2 linked regions of the Homo sapiens genome follow. The protein of the gene in region 2 purifies or fractionates together with the protein of the main gene of each other region. This does not show direct contact. Each region holds a gene or a part of one and is shown on either strand. Other genes may lie near its edges.

Region 1 (3,500 bases), on a different chromosome or scaffold from region 2:
AGAGAAGGTACCTTTTCTGTCTTGCTATCATTTCCATAATAGGAACAATGTTTACATTTCCTCAGCCCATGCAGTGCCTCTAATGTATTCATGTTCTTTCACTCTCCAGAGGCAGGAATTGAGGTATTAGAGATTTTATTTTTTAGCGACTGCATCAAGCACTTAAGATCTGACAACTGTGATGTGTATTCTCACTTGGTATTAAAAAATAAAAGCTTCTGTGTTTGCATTTGATTAGAGTCACTCAGCTGGGTGGCTGATTAAGCAGGAATAGCGAAAGCACCTTCCTTCAGAAACACTGAATCCTGGTTAATGTAGTGTAAGATTACGGATGGGTGTAGTCACATAATTTTTATTAAATTGAAGAGATTAGCTCTGCTGAAAAATCCCACTGTGACAGCAAACTCTAGGTGCAATAATGGTACCTAACACTTCTCAAACCCACTACAGGGCCCCAAATGGTCTTATTTCTGAATCTTCTTTCAGTTCCAGTGAGAAAGCTTCATTCAAATATTCAGGATAGTTACCTGAAATTGAGTTTGCACTGTTTTTTTTTTTTTTTTTTTTTGAGAGGTGATGCAAAATCAGCACAAACATTTGTAGTCTGTGAACTTTAGCTATATTCTCTCAGTGTAAATAAAAATGACACACACTCTCTTTCCTCTAGTTGCTTAAAAGGCAAACACTTTTCCCCAGACGGAGGCTCCGGTGGCCACAAGGGGGCCGTCGGAAAAGATCCCAACTGGAAGCCCAGAGTGTGTGATTTGTTTGTCTAACATGCATAAAATTGTTGCCTCTTCCTCCAGACTCAGGATAACTTGGTTATCCCAGTTCTAGGAAGGGAAGGTTAAAAAGCCATAAAGAAGGAAAGAAAGATAACTTTTGAAAGCCAAAACCTCCCATATTCCCTGGAGTGAAGCAGAGTAGAAAGTGCAGGTACTGGAAAGAGTGAACAGCACTTTTCTTTCTTTCTTTTTTTGAAACGGAGTCTCGCTCTGTCACCCAGGCTGGAGTACAGTGGCCTGATCTCCCTTCACTGCAACCTCCACCTCCCAGGTTCAAACAATTCTCTACCTCAGCCTCCGGAGTACCTAGGATCACAAGCCCCCGCCACCGCGCCTGGCTAATTTTTTTTTTTTTTTTTTTTTTTTTTAGTAGAGACGGGGGTTTCACCATCTTGGCCAGGCTGGTCTTCAACTCCTGACCTCGTGATCCACCCGCCTCGGCCTCCCAAAGTGCTGGGATTACAGGCGTGAGTCACCGTGCCCGGCCTGAACAGCACTTTTTTAGACAACAAAGAAGGCTACAAATGGAGTCCATTTACATACTGCACACGAGGGGCTTGGGGAGGATTAATTGGTTAATGTTTGGCAAGCTGAGCTTGGAAGACAAGTTGTGCAGAGGTGCTGTTGTCACTTACTACTGTTATTAATTAACAAGGTGAATGCCAAGCAAAAACAAGCCTCGGGGTGTGCTTTCATTTCTTAACGCCATATGCGATGTCTATTGCAGGAGTGATTCGGGAAAGTTACCTCAAAGGCCACGACCAGCTGGTTCCCGTCACCCTCTTGGCCATTGCAGTCATCCTGGCTTTCGTCATGGGGGCCGTCTTCTCGGGCATCACCGTCTACTGCGTCTGTGATCATCGGCGCAAAGACGTGGCTGTGGTGCAGCGCAAGGAGAAGGAGCTCACCCACTCGCGCCGGGGCTCCATGAGCAGCGTCACCAAGCTCAGCGGCCTCTTTGGGGACACTCAATCCAAAGACCCAAAGCCGGAGGCCATCCTCACGCCACTCATGCACAACGGCAAGCTCGCCACTCCCGGCAACACGGCCAAGATGCTCATTAAAGCAGACCAGCACCACCTGGACCTGACGGCCCTCCCCACCCCAGAGTCAACCCCAACGCTGCAGCAGAAGCGGAAGCCCAGCCGCGGCAGCCGCGAGTGGGAGAGGAACCAGAACCTCATCAATGCCTGCACAAAGGACATGCCCCCCATGGGCTCCCCTGTGATTCCCACGGACCTGCCCCTGCGGGCCTCCCCCAGCCACATCCCCAGCGTGGTGGTCCTGCCCATCACGCAGCAGGGCTACCAGCATGAGTACGTGGACCAGCCCAAAATGAGCGAGGTGGCCCAGATGGCGCTGGAGGACCAGGCCGCCACACTGGAGTATAAGACCATCAAGGAACATCTCAGCAGCAAGAGTCCCAACCATGGGGTGAACCTTGTGGAGAACCTGGACAGCCTGCCCCCCAAAGTTCCACAGCGGGAGGCCTCCCTGGGTCCCCCGGGAGCCTCCCTGTCTCAGACCGGTCTAAGCAAGCGGCTGGAAATGCACCACTCCTCTTCCTACGGGGTTGACTATAAGAGGAGCTACCCCACGAACTCGCTCACGAGAAGCCACCAGGCCACCACTCTCAAAAGAAACAACACTAACTCCTCCAATTCCTCTCACCTCTCCAGAAACCAGAGCTTTGGCAGGGGAGACAACCCGCCGCCCGCCCCGCAGAGGGTGGACTCCATCCAGGTGCACAGCTCCCAGCCATCTGGCCAGGCCGTGACTGTCTCGAGGCAGCCCAGCCTCAACGCCTACAACTCACTGACAAGGTCGGGGCTGAAGCGTACGCCCTCGCTAAAGCCGGACGTACCCCCCAAACCATCCTTTGCTCCCCTTTCCACATCCATGAAGCCCAATGATGCGTGTACATAATCCCAGGGGGAGGGGGTCAGGTGTCGAACCAGCAGGCAAGGCGAGGTGCCCGCTCAGCTCAGCAAGGTTCTCAACTGCCTCGAGTACCCACCAGACCAAGAAGGCCTGCGGCAGAGCCGAGGACGCTGGGTCCTCCTCTCTGGGACACAGGGGTACTCACGAAAACTGGGCCGCGTGGTTTGGTGAAGGTTTGCAACGGCGGGGACTCACCTTCATTCTCTTCCTTCACTTTCCCCCACACCCTACAACAGGTCGGACCCACAAAAGACTTCAGTTATCATCACAAACATGAGCCAAAAGCACATACCTACCCCATCCCCCACCCCCACACACACACACACACACACATGCACACAACACATACACACACACGCACAGAGGTGAACAGAAACTGAAACATTTTGTCCACAACTTCACGGGACGTGGCCAGACTGGGTTTGCGTTCCAACCTGCAAAACACAAATACATTTTTTAAAATCAAGAAAATTTAAAAAGACAAAAAAAAAAGAATTCATTGATAATTCTAACTCAGACTTTAACAATGGCAGAAGTTTACTATGCGCAAATACTGTGAAATGCCCGCCAGTGTTACAGCTTTCTGTTGCAGCAGATAAATGCCATGTTGGGCAACTATGTCATAGATTTCTGCTCCTCCTCTCTTTTAATGAAATAACGTGACCGTTAACGCAAGTAACTCTTTATTTATTGTTCACCCTTTTTTTCCTTAAGGAAAGGACTCTTCCAAATATCATCCTATGAACAGCTCTTCAGAAAGCCCATTGAAAGTTA
Region 2 (3,680 bases):
ACAGCCCAACTAAAAATGCACACACATCTGAACAGACACCTCACCAAAGAAGATCTACAGATGGCAAGTAAACACATTGAAACCACAATGTGGTTACAATTGAAAACCACAATGAGATAGCACAGCTGGTCTATATCTGTTAGAATTGCTAAACTCTTTTAAAAATGACAAATTGCTGAAGGAAAAACAAGAACTCTTTTCATTGCCAGTGGAACACAGCGTATAAGACCAAAATACGCCACCCCAAAACCTAACCCTAACCCTAACCCCTAACCCCTAACCCTAACCCTAACCCTAACCCTAACCCCTAACCCCTAACCCTAACCCTAACCCTAACCCCTACCCCTAACCCCTAACCCTTACCGGTGACCCTACTGTATCCCTGACTCCTAACCAACGTTGATCCCTAACCCTAAACCCCTTACTGTAACTATAATCTTCATCCCACCCTATCCCTAGCCTTAGTGCCATCCCCCAGGCTTTTTCCAGGATGGGATTTTATGTGATTGTTTCGAATAGGTGGAAATCTCTGCTCATTTAGGAGTCGTTCAATGTAACAAGGATCTTGGTCTTCACAGAGACCCTAAACGCGTGTGGCCCAGGGCCATGTGGATGCCATCAGCCACTAGGTGGCAGCAGGGGCCCTTTGGATTTGAACAATGCAGCTCAGTCAGAGGGCTGGACTGGGACACCCCTACTCATGGTCTCTCTTGGCATGGTTTTGTTTGGTGACTCCAGGTGTCCCAACCTCCTGTGTCCATTGTAATATGTCCTGGGACCATCTCCCCCAGGGCCTTCAACCTGGGGGGTTGAACCCCAGGATAGCAACCCCAAGCCCTCCTTGCTATCCTGGCTACTGATGGAAGATGTACCTCAAGCCTGTCCCATTCCTCACTTCCTGCTGAGACCTGGCCCCAACATGGCCAGCTCTATGTTCCTCAGACCCTCTCAGGCCACCTTCTCTCTTCTAGGCACTGTCACTGGGCTTCTCCCCACCCCATAGATCCACAGCCCCCAGGTAGTCCTACAGCTGTGTCCACTCGTGCAGCCTGCACCCCCTTCCCCTACTCGGCCACCCCATCTGAGTAGTAAGGGGCCCCTGCCTGATTGGAGACCCCCAGATGCAGACCCAGATCACACAGCACACTGATAAGAGGAGGGATTCGCACCTTAAAAGAAAGGCGTGGGACCAACCCCAGATCCCACCACTCTCGGCCTCAAGGGCAGGCATGACTAGAGGCCCTTGGTGGCCAGGACCCACTGCCTTCTTCACCGATCAGTTGGCATGGCCTCTCACCAGTGTTCCCTCCTAACACACCTGTTCTCTCTCTCACACACCCTAAAGCCGCTTGCCAACCACCTGTCACACAGCCACTCCATGCCTGTTGCTGCTTGGCACCCACTGGGGGCCAGGGATGTGAACAAACCTCATCTAAGCTGGCTGCCGGGTCCTAATGGGCAGGTCCGGTCCGCCCTCTAGGAGAGGTGCTGTCCGGTGAGGCATAAAATCCCGGGATTCTGGCTGGAGGCAGCTCCTGAGACTGCTGGCATGAAGGGGAGCCGTGCCCTCCTGCTGGTGGCCCTCACCCTGTTCTGCATCTGCCGTGAGTCTGTGCCACTGGGGTTTCCAGAACATTCAGGGGTGGGGGGGAGTGGGGGGTACCTGAGAAGGTAAAATCCTGGCATCGGGCCTCTGCAGTGAACACTCCACCTGCTTCTGTCACAGAAGTGGGCAAGGACCCTGCAGAACCCGCGCCCACCCTACTCCACCCCAACCAAGGACAAAGCCCAGCTGACCCAACACCAGCCCAGTGTCTCCTACCCCAGCCCAGTCCAGCCTGACCTGACCCTTCAAGCCTCTGGTCATAATAGCCTCTCATCAGGGGAAATTTCCCCCACACCAGGAGCTTAACTTTCCTTCCCTGGTGATCCCAGGGAATGCTGAGTGGAAATTGGAGCAGCTAAGATTAAGGGGGATGTGGAGGGGTCTTCGGGCAAGGTGGAGTTGGAGGTGTTGTGGAGGAAGCCCTGGGGAGGAGAGGTGGGCATTGAAGGGGAAGGTCTGGAGACCATGGAGGTTGGAGCCCTGGGGCAGGTCCAGGGCTGTGGTTGCACCAGAGTCACCCTGTCCTGTCCTGGCATCATCTCGCTCGTGATGCAGGGATGGCCACAGGGGAGGACAACGATGAGTTTTTCATGGACTTCCTGCAAACACTACTGGTGGGGACCCCAGAGGAGCTCTATGAGGGGACCTTGGGCAAGTACAATGTCAACGAAGATGCCAAGGCAGCAATGACTGAACTCAAGTCCTGTATAGATGGCCTGCAGCCAATGCACAAGGCGGAGCTGGTCAAGCTGCTGGTATGAGGGCGGCGGGCACCCCATTTTCTAAAGATCTGCAGCCTTACCAAGACCACCCAACACAGCACCCACACAGCCTACCCCACCCACAGACATCCACCACCCACAGACATTGCACCCGCATCAGCCAGCTCAGGTGGACACCCCAGACCTCCTGTCCACCGAGCAGCCCCCAGACTCCATAGACCTCCTCCCCAGTCTGTGGGATACTCCTCCATGCACACATGTGAACATACACAGAGATCCAAACACAGGTGCAGACATGAAATGTACACTGCGTGCACACATGTATAAACACGTTCACACCCACATGCTCACACTGGGATATGCACACACATACATGTGTGCACACCATCACATGTGCACACACACCTCCCAGCTGCTGGGAGGAGATAGGCAGCAATATGCCAGACCCCCCCCCACTGAGGGCCTTGCTTGCCTGATGGAGCTGTGGCTCTCCACTTATTGAGCACAGCCCTCTTAGTCCACATGTGTCTGCCTTCCAGGTGCAAGTGCTGGGCAGTCAGGACGGTGCCTAAGTGGACCTCAGACATGGCTCAGCCATAGGACCTGCCACACAAGCAGCCGTGGACACAACGCCCACTACCACCTCCCACATGGAAATGTATCCTCAAACCGTTTAATCAATAAAGCCTCTTCCGCAGCTCAGGCTCCTGTCTCTGCCCCCACAGAGGGGCACACAAATGGGGACATCAGGAACACACTCGGGGCCACAGCCACACACACAGACCCACATACAGAGGATCCCACTCAAGGAGCACACGTGCGAAAGTCCCCACAGAGGGACACACAAATGGGGACATCAGGAACACAGGGCCACAGCCACACACACAGACCCACATACAGAGGATCCTACTCAAGGAGCACACGTGCGAAAGTCCCCCACAGAGGGACACACAAATGGGGACATCAGGAACACAGGGCCACAGCCACACACACAGACCCACATACAGAGGATCCCACTCAAGGAACACACGTGTGAAAGTCCCCACAGAGGTACACACAAATGGGGACATCAGGAACACAGGGCCACAGCCACACACACAGACCCACATACAGAGGATCCCACTCAAGGAACACACGTGTGAAAGTCCCCACAGAGGTACACACAGGGTCCACACAGGAGCAGGCACACCACAGGCAAGACCCAAAATGGAAATCCAGGCAGACGCCACGTAGGCAGGTGGACAGAGCACAGAGCCAGACAACACTGCGTGGTCGTCCGGAGGGGGCGTCTGGAGGGGGCGTCCGGAGGGAGACGGGCGGCAGAGGCAGCGGTATGAGGTGGGAGCCCCAGA

The links. Proteins that work in one complex are often made in the same cells at the same time.
Region 1: the proteins of SCGB1C1 (region 2) and SEMA6A purify together in Homo sapiens (affinity purification with mass spectrometry; one large-scale study listed by BioGRID and IntAct). This does not show direct contact.

The regions. Positions count from the first base shown.
Region 1 is NC_000005.10:116,445,824-116,449,323, reverse strand, and holds part of SEMA6A (semaphorin-6A isoform 2 precursor), read left to right. Parts: intron 1-1,512; coding exon 1,513-2,711; 3' UTR 2,712-3,500. UniProt on the Homo sapiens protein: Cell surface receptor for PLXNA2 that plays an important role in cell-cell signaling. Required for normal granule cell migration in the developing cerebellum.
Region 2 is NC_000011.10:191,551-195,230, forward strand, and holds SCGB1C1 (secretoglobin family 1C member 1 precursor), read left to right. Parts: upstream 1-1,549; coding exon 1,550-1,604; intron 1,605-2,161; coding exon 2,162-2,361; intron 2,362-2,867; coding exon 2,868-2,900; 3' UTR 2,901-3,025; downstream 3,026-3,680.